3 linked regions of the Homo sapiens genome follow. The protein of the gene in region 1 interacts with the protein of each later gene in a biochemical or structural test. Each region holds a gene or a part of one and is shown on either strand. Other genes may lie near its edges.

Region 1 (3,751 bases):
AGTAGGCAATTAATATCTGCTGAATTAATTCTTTGTATTGTAAGTCATATCAGGATTTCTTGGGGGTTAGCATTATCTTAAAACCACAAAAAACAATAACTTTAGACCTAATTGGTTTCATGACTTATTGAGGAGGCGAGGAATAGGTTAAAGCTGCTTTGCATACATTTTGGAATAGTCTCTTTTGTCTAGTAAGGATGGATAAGTTTGTTAATAACCAGTATTCACATGGGTAGAAAAAAAGTGTCTTGATTTTTAATCCTACAAGTAGTAAAGGAATGGTAGTCAGAAGTTGAATCGTACTTTTAATGCCTCAGGCAGGATAGAATAGTATTGTTTTGTTTTGTATCCCAATATGCCTAACTACTTCTCTCTCTCTCCTTTCTGTTTTGCTTCTCATCCTTTCACCCATTACAGTCTCAGTATGTGTGTTACACCAGGAGGTTGCCTTGGCAGGTCAGAGGATCTGTCACAGTGAAGGCACTGTGGTACCCTTTGTTTTTTAGGCAAGGATGACACATGCTAGTCAACTTATTTCCATTTGTTGTTCCCTCCACTTGGCACTAAATGAGACTTAACCATTTTTGAATCAAAGTTTATAAATTTCTTACAAAAATTAAGGTTTTTATTCTCTATAATAAGCACATGAGAAAGACTGGTTTTAAATTTTAAACTGTGGAGTGACGTAAAAACATGTTTAATTTTAATTATTTGCTTTCTTTTGTTCGTCTTGTAAGTTATTAATGTATTAATACTGGTAACTTCTAGATTGGAGGAATGATTTATCCTAATGTTTCTTTTTTAAAAAAAACTATCAGTCATTCATATGGCATATGCTAATCAAGGCTCTGCGGTATTTTTTTTCTTATGTTTTTTAATGAAGCAGCTCTTTTCATGATCTAGCAGTCTGTGTTACTATCAGTACGTAAACAGTAAGGACTCAAATTTTAAGATTAAAACAAGTTCATTTTGTTAACATCATGTTTTGTTGCATCTTGCAGCTTCTTGGTGAATTTTTGGATGAAGCCATTAAATTAATTGCTTGCCATCATGAGCAGAAGCAAGCGTGACAACAATTTTTATAGTGTAGAGATTGGAGATTCTACATTCACAGTCCTGAAACGATATCAGAATTTAAAACCTATAGGCTCAGGAGCTCAAGGAATAGTATGGTAAGTGTTTACTTCCAAAAATTAGGCAAAGAATCATTAACTGCTACCTTTTCTCCTCTCGTAATTTAGATACCTTGGCAAATATTTAACTTGCTTTGAAAAATTAAATTAAAACTAAAAATTAAACGAAAACTATTCCACAGTAAATTGTTTGCTTCAGGATCAATGGTCTTTTCTTTATTATTATTATTAAAGGTTGAGTATCCCTTATCTGAAATGCTTAGGACCAGAAGTGTCAGATTTTGGAATATTTGCATTGGTTGAGCATTCCAAATTCAAATCAGAAATACTTCAGTGAACATTTCCTTTGAGCATCATGTCAGTGCCCCCAAAATTTAGATTCTCGAGCATTTTAGATTTCATATTTTCAGATTTGGGATAATAACCTGTATTATTCATAAGATACAACTCTATAAACTAGCACTGCCATCTTTAAGTATAAACTATGATTAAATACTTGGGCATAGCCATTGAAGACAAATATCTCTATCAGCAAAGAATAAGTGGCATGCTTGTTAATTTCATGTATACATGTATTCCCATAGATAATTGTTTAATAAGAAGCTTCACTTAGTCATCACTTTCACACTATAATGAAGCGTGGAATTTCAGAAATCTTATTCTATACTGGGGAATGAAGTCAGCTAATATCTCACTGTGTGTGTTTCAAAATTCATCCATATGTTTAAAATTGATTTATTAGCTAATTTCTACAAAAGCCTCAGGCTATATCAGCATAATTCTTTATAAACTGAAATGCAGATCACTCTTTGGGATAGTTCTGATACTGATTGCAGATCACTAAATTAGCATAATAATAAACTAGTGTTTTGGGGAATTATAAGCCTCACTCAAGAATAATTATATTTTTATTACCTCTTCTTGAAACAAATTTCAGAATCTATTCTAAACAAAATGTAAACTGTTAAGTATTTATAATCCAGTATTTCTCCTAGGTTCTAAAAAAACTGTTTTACATGTGCACAGGGAGTCATGCATAGGATTGGTGTTTGCAGCACCATTTATAACAGCAAAAATTGGAAATAGCATCAAATCTATCAACAGAAGAATAAAAAATTGTGATACAGTCATGCTGTGAAATACTATATAACATTTTAAACGAACTGGAGCCATATGTGTCAACAAGGATAACCTCAGAAATGTAGTGCTGGGCTTCAAAGCAAGATGTAGAATATATATATACATCATTATACCATTTACATGTAGCTTAAAATATGCAAAGCAGTACCATATATTTATGGATTATATATATGTACAAAAGATTAAAACATGCATAAATACCAAACTTAGGATGTTGTTTATCTCTGAGAAAATAGAGAAAAGAAAGGAGGTTTGACCTATAATATTATATTTCTTTCTAAAAAATTCAGAGCAAGCCGGGCGCGGTGGCTCACGCCTATAATCCCCGCACTTTGGGAGGCCGAGGTGGGTGGATCATGAGGTCAGGAGTTCAAGACCAGCCTGGCCAACATGGTGAAACCCTGTCTGTACTCAAAATACAAAAATTAGCTGGGCATGGTGGCACATGCCTGTAATCCCAGCTACTTGGGAGGCGGAGGCAGGAGAATAGCTTGAACCCGGGAGGTGGAGGTTGTGGTGAGCTGAGATGGTGTCACTGCACTCCAGCCTGGGTGATAGAGTGAGACTCCGTCTAAAAAAAAAAAAAAAATCAGAGCAATTATGGTAACGTATTAAGATTTAATAAATTTGCATAATAGAATGGCATTTATTATCTTTCCTGCATTCTTGAAGTAATTTACAATATCAAAAATTATAGAAGTTGGAGTCATTTTGTAAGCCGTTTTGACTGGCCTGTTCTCATTGTAACCAACCACATTTAACCAACCATAAATTAAATTTAAAGAAAATCATATTATATAGTCAGTATTAGGATTCTGAAAGCCAGCTCTCTGTTCAGATTTTGTTTTTTGTTTTTTGTTTTTTTGTTTTTTTGTTTTTTTTTGAGACAGAGTCTCACTCTGTCGCCCAGGCTAGAGTGCAGTGGCGTGATCTTGGCTCACTGCAAGCTCCGCCTCCCGGGTTCACGCCATTCTCCCGCCTCAGCCTCCGGAGTAGCTGGGGCTACAGGTGCCTGCCACCACGCCCGGCTAATTTGTGTGTGTGTGTGTGTGTGTGTGTGTGTGTGTGTGTGTGTATTTTTAGTAGAGACAGGGTTTCACCATGTTAGCCGGGATGGTCTCGATCTCCTGATCTCGTGATCTACCCGCCTCGGCCTCCCAAAGTGCTGGGATTACAGGCGTGAGCCACTGCGCCTGGCCCTTCTGTATTTATTTTATTGTGTCCAAAAGGATAGAAGTAATGTGTTTACATAGAATTATTCAGCAAATCTTTTGAGTAGAATTTATATGCTTTTTTTTTTTTTGAGGGAGTCTACCAGGCTGGAGTGCGGTGGTGCGATCTTGGCTCACTGCAACTTCCGCCTCCCAGGTTCAAGTGATTCCCTTGCCTTAGCCTCTCAAGTAGCTGGGACTACAGGTGTGCACCATCACACCCAGCTAATTTTTTTGTATTTTAGTAGAGGCGGAGTTTCACTGTGT
Region 2 (3,751 bases), on another chromosome or scaffold:
ATCTGACGGTGAATGAATGAAGCTAAGTGGTGCTCCCCACAGGGCCCGGCTCTTGTAACTGCTTCACAGACAAGCGATTTCCAGGTTATGGAGACATCCTAGCACAGAATTAAACGCTTCAAACTCAGACTGTTAACTCCTCAGAAGCCAGAGTGGAGTTTCTCAGCCCTGGCTACATCAGCTAACAATCTCGCCAAGCAAGGAACCAAGGGGGCAAAGACATCACCTCCAGAAACTCGAGTGTTCCTTCTGCTGACAGAGGAGCAGCCCGCCTGCGGCCTTGTTCTGTGTTTACATCAACCACCCAATTCACCCGTGTCACAGACCTTCAAAATACGGGATTAGGGACAAGGGAAAGGTCTCCAACATCATCCACAGACGGCTGCAGCCCCCTAAGAACACCAAAAGATTCCTTTTCTAGATGGGTTTAGAATGGCAGCCAACAGAGGTAGCACTTGGGGTCGGGAAACGGTTTTGACTGAACACACGCACGAAAGCAAAGGCAATTGTCATGCAGAGGTGGGTGGGGAGGGGAGAGTGAGGCCTGGCTTTGAAGCTGAGCTCCCCGGGGATGACGCCAGGCACATCGGGTTTGGGGCTGAAGATTCAGGGCTGGGGGCACGGAGGAGGGGGCCAGGGCCCAGGCCTGGGCGGAAAAGGGGGTCCCCGGGAGTCGGGGTGGGGTCCCGGGGCAGGCGGGGGAGTGCTCTAGGGAGGTGTCTCACGGCGGGCAGAGGGGGTGGGGAAGTCCCGGGGCGGGGGATATGGGGTCCAGGCGGGTCTCGGGGCGGGGTCTGGGGGTCCAGGGGTCCCGCGGTCCGGGGTGCCGGAGCGGGGTCTGGGGTCGGGACGGGTGTTGGGTCCGGGGCCCGGGGCTGGCTGGGGGTCCGGGACGGGGATGCGGGCGGGTCCCGCGGCCCACGCACCTCCTCCGCCTGCCTGCGCAGCGCCTTCTCACGCTCGTACTGGGTGAGCAGCTGCTCGTTGTCCTCGCGCAGCAGCTCCAGCTCCACCTCGTGCTCCTGGTTCTCGCTGAGCACCGAGTCTAGGTTCTCCAGCACGTTCACCACCAGCGGCATGAGCTCCTTGACCACCTCCTCGTCGTAGCAGTGGATGAGGCGCTCGAACTCGCGGTAGATGGAGCCCGCCAGGCCCGACACCCGCTCCGACATCACCGAGCCGGAGCAGTAGTCGTCCTGGTACACCACCACGCCGCCGCCCTCGTCCATCTGGATCTCCATCATCGCGGCCACCGCCGCCGCCAGCGCGGCTCGCTATCCGGCCGGCGCGCCCGGCCCTCCCCAGCTGCCTCAGGTTCCGCAGGCCGCAGCCCGTCGCCTCCCGCAGCTGCTGTCGCCTCAGGGCTCCGCCGCCGCCGCTGCCGAGGCTGCGCCCGTCACTCACTCACCGGAAGTCCCGCCCTCCAGCCGGAGGGGGCGGTGCCCGCGCGTCCCGCCGCAGCCGCGCCGCCAGGGGGCGCAGGGGCCGTGACGTCAGAGGAAGCCGGGCTTCGGGCCGGAAGCGCGGGTGAGCCGGGCAGAGGGAGCTCCCGGCCAGGCCGGTGGGATCCGCGGGGCGGCAGTGGTCGCTTCCCCCAGCGCGCTGTAGCTTGATCATGTCCCCGCAACCGTGGGCTTCCGGTGACCTCGATCCCGTCTCCAGGCTCTGCACACTTCGGCGGACTTAGGTGAAGGCTCAGCGCCTGCGCCTCAATCCCGGCCGCCCTGATGAGCCTCCGTTCCCTACAGCACCGCGCCCCGCTCAGTGCCTCCCCTCTCCTGATGCCTTCCCCGCTCAGCTGGCTCCTCCCGGGATTCTGTGAATGCACCCTCAACGCCCATCTCATCCTGAAACCCAGCAGCGTGGCCTCCTTCCTTTCGCCCACTTCTCCCTACTGCACTGACTGCTTCAGATTTTCTTTTTTTTTTTTTTTTTTGAGATGGAGTCTTGCTCTGTCGCCCAGGCTGGAGTGCGGTGGCGCGATCCTGGCTCACTGCAAGCTCCGCCTTCTGGGTTCAAGTGATTCTTCTCCCTCAGCCTCCGGAGTAGCTGGGATTACAGACCAGCTAATTTTGTATTTTTAGTAGAGACGGGGTTTCGCCATGTTGGCCAGGCTGGTCTCAAATTTCTGATCTCAAGTGATCCGCCCGCCTCGACCTCCCAGAGTGCTGGGATGACAGGCGTGAGCCACCGCGCCAGTCCAGATTTTCGGTTACTTTTCAGCTACGTGCAATCTGTTTAACCCATCCACTGGGTTATTAATTGCACCGATTTTTTTTTTTTTGAGACGGTGTTTCGCTCTTGTCGCCCAGGCTGGAGTGTGATGGCGCGATCTCGGCTCACTGCAACCTTCGCCTCCTGGGTCCAAGCGATTCTCCTGCCTCAGCCTCCTGAGTAGCTGGGACTACAGACACGCGCTATTAACGCCCGGCTCATTTTTTTGTATTTTTAGTAGAGACGGGGTTTCACCATGTTGGCCAGGCTGGTCTTGAACTGCTGACCTCAAGTGATCCACCCGCCTCCCTCGGCGTCCCAAAGTGCTGGGATTACAGGCGTGAGCCACTGCACCCTGCCAATGATTCTGTTTTTGTCCTATTTGATTTCTTATATTCTAGCAGTTTTAATAGGCTCTTATACTTCCAACCACATATTTATCTTTAAGCGTTGGGTGTGCCTCATAACTACAGTATCTGCAGCCCTTGCAGGTCTGATTCTGCATGTCATCCTGGTTGACTCTTGGCCCAGGGTCCCCTTTCCCCCATTCTGAGCCAGTGTCCCCAGGACTTTTGTCTCTGGAAGTACTTGAGGCCTGAACTTAAAATGTGTTGCTCCGTAAGATTTGCACTTTATTTTGCTGGGCAGGGGACACCATGAACCCAAGACTTTGAAACTCAATTTGGGAGCCACACATGTATTGTGAATCCTGATGAAACCACATCAGTGACTATTTAATGCTAATAGAAATGGCCACTTACCGTCTTTCACCTACTGCAATGCTCATCAGTTCAGATCCTCTCATCCTAATCTGATTGCACCGAAACAGTAACTCCCGTAGCTGACACCCTACTGATTTTTTTTGTTGTTCAGTTTTTAGAGGCAGGGTCTCACCCTGTTGCTCAGGCTGGAGGCACTGGCATGATCAGGGCTCACTTGAACTCTTAGGCTCAAGTGATCCCACCTCAGCCTCCTAAGTAGTTGGGTCTACAGGTGTAAGCCACCACTGCTTGGCCAATTTTAAAAACATTTTTGTAGAGACAGAGGTCTCACTGTTACTCTGGCTGGTCTTGAACTCCTGGCCTCAAGCGATCCTCCCCCTTGGCCTCCCAAAGTGCTTAGATGACAGGTGTGAGCCACCATGCCAGGCTCTATTGTGTTTTTCACATTTTCCACTTGCAACATAATTTGCCGTATACATGTTCAACCATCCCACTAAGAGGTTTCATTCAGCCTCAGATTCCAATTTCCTGGGATCCCAAGTGACTTAATTTTGCCAAATCTCCATTTCTTTTCTTTTCTTTTTTTTTTTTTCCTGAGATGGAGTCTCAGTCTGTGGCCCAGGCTGGAGTGCAGTGGCACCATCTCAGCTCACTGTTACTTCCGCCCCCCGTGTTCAAGCCATTCTCCTGCCTCAGCCTCCCGAGTAGCTGGGACTACAGGCATGTGCTACCACGCCTGGCTAATTTTTGTAATTTTTAGTAGAGATGGGGGTTTCACCATACTGGTCAGGCCGGTCTCAAACTCCTGACCTCAG
Region 3 (3,751 bases), on another chromosome or scaffold:
GGCCCTGTCATCATTGACTGCAGGCCCTTCATGGAGTACAACAAGAGTCACATCCAAGGAGCTGTCCACATTAACTGTGCCGATAAGATCAGCCGGCGGAGACTGCAGCAGGGCAAGATCACTGTCCTAGACTTGATTTCCTGTAGGGAAGGCAAGGACTCTTTCAAGAGGATCTTTTCCAAAGAAATTATAGTTTATGATGAGAATACCAATGAACCAAGCCGAGTGATGCCCTCCCAGCCACTTCACATAGTCCTCGAGTCCCTGAAGAGAGAAGGCAAAGAACCTCTGGTGTTGAAAGGTAATGCCCCTGCTCCCTTCCCAAGCACGGTCCTGATTAGCCGGGTTCACTTTGGGTTTTCTCGTAGAGTGACAGCATTCTCCTTACCCTGGCTACCAAAGACCAAAATAGACTTTATTCTTCTCTTCCCTTCTATGCTCTTTATTGTTTTGGTTTAGTAAGAAAAACCCAGCAGCACTGAACTGGAAGCCAGAAGATCTGGGTTCTACCCTTCATTTGGGTTCTAATTTGCATTGTGCAAGTCATTTCACCTCTCTGGGACTGTTTTCTCATCTTTCTAAAAAGGGGCTTTATACACACCAGATGGTATCTCAAGTCATGCCTGGTCTGCTAGCTCTATTCCAATCAATCACTAGTTGGAAAGTTATTGTCTCTCAGACTTAACCAATGTTGATGGAACAGAGGAAGGAGCAACTATGGTGAACTACAAGTAAACCTACAGGTACCAGTTCTTACTGTGGGAAATTCTTTCTCTTTCTCACCTTTCTGACCAGCTTGACTTTTATGTGGTTTATAAAGTGACCTTGAAGAAGGGCAGAGCTTCTTATTCTAAGGCCCCATATAAAGTATAAGTTCACCAATTACATCCATTCCTCTGCCAAGGCTCCAAGGGAACAGAGACGTTTTTATGAAACACTCCCCAACCCATTGTTTTTTCTGGCCTCACCTGACAACGGTTGGCATCATGGCTCCTCCCAAGATGGAGTAATGGGTCACTTGCCCCAGTATACTGAATGCAGAATAACTGAGATTAGCAGAACTGAGCTCTGGCAGAAGGAATTATTCACCACTCTTCTCGGAGCACCTTCCATACCGTGTTGCCTAACCTTTCCAAGTAGCCTGCATCCTGTGCCCAGCCTAGTTGCACCTCTTTGCCCTCAGATACTGACTTTTGGGGCACTGTACATCACTCTCATTCGGCATCTTTTACCTGGTGGTGGTAGTGAGAGATAGTCGTCTTCTCTCTTCTCTCCTCTTGTGTTCTGAGCCAAGGTACGCAGTTTCTGGGTCACATCTCCAACCAGTCTCCTAAAGTGTGTTGACCAAAGGTGTTGCTGAGTTTGAACACATTGCATATTTAAATTGCAATAGGACATGTGGGTGAGCAAGTTAGTTATTTTGTCTCTATGGGACAGCTTTGCCATTCTCCTTCTTGTCTTCCCAGTGGGGCATTCTGCCTTTTGTTAAGCAGTGTTCTGGGAATTATAGTTCTGAATTCCACTGACACAATCTCCTCTTCCCACCCTCCGCTCTCCTCAAACTTGCCCTCATGGGGCTACACTACCACAAAGGCACATCTCTCCTTAGGGCTGGTGGGCTTTGCTGGGAAGGAGAACATGAAAGAATTGTATGTAGAGAGTTCCAGAAGCTTCTAGACATTTCCTGGTCGTGGTGGTTGTGGTGGGTTTTCTTGAGGTCACAAATATGTTCAGATTTCCTCCATATAGCTCTGTATTTTATTGTTTCTGTATTCTTGTATGGTTGACTTTGAGTGATTCCCAGGATATTTACCCTGCTATTGTCTTACCATAATCTTGATGTGTCTAGCCTCTTACAAATGAGAAAATCCTACCGAGGAATTTCCCATTTGTAATAGTTTGTCTTGGGGAGCAAAGAGGAGGATAGCCAATGATCATGATGATCTCCTCTTTTCTCACGCAGAGCAGGTGTTCATGATAAAAAGCAAGTCTTTTGTGTCTTCATGATCTGAAGAGAGGAAACAACACGGATCAAGATGATCCTAGACCTCCTAATCATGGGGATGATTACAAGGAGTTGCAGACCCTACTCTCTATTTTGCAGTGGGTGGAGTTGTGGATAGGGGTGACCCATCAGTCATTGAGAAATGAATCTCCTGGGTGCTACTTGTGAAAGTGAGGATCCTCTCTCCCTTTCCTGTGGATGCAGCTGAGATTCTGGACAGCCTAGACTTCTTCCTCAGTGTCAGAGTAAGATTGCCTCAATGGGGCGGGGCAGGACACACTGCTGACCTCACCACTGGGCGCCCTGGGCAGCCACTGCGAGGCCTCGTCATTTTCGAGTTGGTGAGACACCGCGGCAGTCGACTTGGAAGATGCTCTGGTGGTAGAGGTTAGATTATTTGTAGTTTTGGGGGCCTTTTCTTCAAATATCTGGGAATTTCATTGAAAATATGTAGTTCAGGAGTGAAGGGGTCTATATTCTACTTTATAATTATCATTATCATTTTGGTATCTTTTGGGAGAATGGCCTAAAATTGGGACCAAGATGGAAAAGAAGGGAAAGGAATGGGTCAATATTAGAATGCCCTTCGTTATCCTTTCAACTTGGTAAACCAGAGATTAATACCATAGCACCACTGTGGTGAAAGACGGGGTGGGCATTCCCCAAAGGCATGACCAGCAGACTTCTCTCAGATTCTTGAGTGGGTCAAGCAGACCATTCTGGTCTGGCTTCTCCTCTCAGATTTATTTGAGTAATCCCCTCCCTTGGTGATAAGATTGTGTTTCAGCAAGAGTGGTAGTGGTACCATTTCGGAAGGAGTAATTTTTGCAGGGAAGTTGGTGGGAGGGGGGCATAGTTAGAACATAAGGAGGAAACTTCTAAAGGCTTGTTAGTTTATTTTCAGAGATTTCAGTACAATCTTGGGTAATTTATGGCTGGCCCATCTGATGCTCTGGTTTATGTTTGTAAACACTGGTTGCTACCCTCCCTGTCCAAGATCCTTGTCCCCCTGTCTCCATGCCATACTCTCCATTTTTGGTGCTGTCTGTCAAGTAGAGCGGCTGCTAACTTGCCATTTTAGTAATGCTGTGTCAGGTTGGGAAGAAACCGATCAGAGGCATGGCAGCCCCTGGGATTAAGTTACTGTTCTAATTTACAGTGCCCTCCCTGTTGTGACCTATGCTAGAATCTATGTTTTAGTCTCATCTTCTAAAGAATAAATGGCATCAGACCTGTGCTTCTCTTCAACCTGGTGAAAATGATCCAAATGAATAAATATTTAGGGATTTGTGAGGTCTTTGAAAGAATTATATTGTTTTACTCAAAGCTGATTTTTAATCAACTAAAACTTGCTTTCTAGTCAAACTGAGTAAGAAAGTTGAACAATTCTAGACCATCCATAACGAGAGCTACCGTTTTTGCTATAAAGTTTTTCAGGCTCCCTTTCTTTTCAGTAAAGCTGGGTCCAGGGAAATAATTTGTCATTTACTTAGGTAGGAAGAAATAGTCTACTGCCCCTTTTTCTTAAAGACAGTATATGCCTTCAAAAATGTTATTATAAACATTTTCAAGCATATAGAAAAGCAGAAAAGTGTGTAATGAACATCCATACACCTATCAACCAGATTAAACAATTATATTTTTCCTATTTGCTTTCTCTTTTCTGTTGAAATATTTAAAAATATAGATAATGTTTTAATGTATTTAAGTATGTTTAATGTGTAAATTAATGTTTCAAATTCAATA

The links.
Region 2: the proteins of MAPK8 (region 1) and MAPK8IP3 form a complex in vitro, tested with the Homo sapiens proteins (3 studies listed by BioGRID, with this or other methods).
Region 3: the proteins of MAPK8 (region 1) and DUSP10 form a complex in vitro, tested with the Homo sapiens proteins (2 studies listed by BioGRID, with this or other methods).

The regions. Positions count from the first base shown.
Region 1 is NC_000010.11:48,400,611-48,404,361, forward strand, and holds part of MAPK8 (mitogen-activated protein kinase 8), read left to right. Parts: intron 1-1,001; 5' UTR 1,002-1,050; coding exon 1,051-1,172; intron 1,173-3,751. UniProt on the Homo sapiens protein: Serine/threonine-protein kinase involved in various processes such as cell proliferation, differentiation, migration, transformation and programmed cell death.
Region 2 is NC_000016.10:1,703,833-1,707,583, reverse strand, and holds the start of MAPK8IP3 (C-Jun-amino-terminal kinase-interacting protein 3), read right to left. Parts: upstream 1,390-3,751; 5' UTR 1,245-1,389; coding exon 927-1,244; intron 1-926.
Region 3 is NC_000001.11:221,735,484-221,739,234, reverse strand, and holds part of DUSP10 (dual specificity protein phosphatase 10), read left to right. Parts: coding exon 1-301; intron 302-1,968; coding exon of another isoform or gene 1,969-2,012; exon of another isoform or gene 2,013-2,104; coding exon of another isoform or gene 2,105-2,151; exon of another isoform or gene 2,152-3,751. UniProt on the Homo sapiens protein: Protein phosphatase involved in the inactivation of MAP kinases. Has a specificity for the MAPK11/MAPK12/MAPK13/MAPK14 subfamily. It preferably dephosphorylates p38.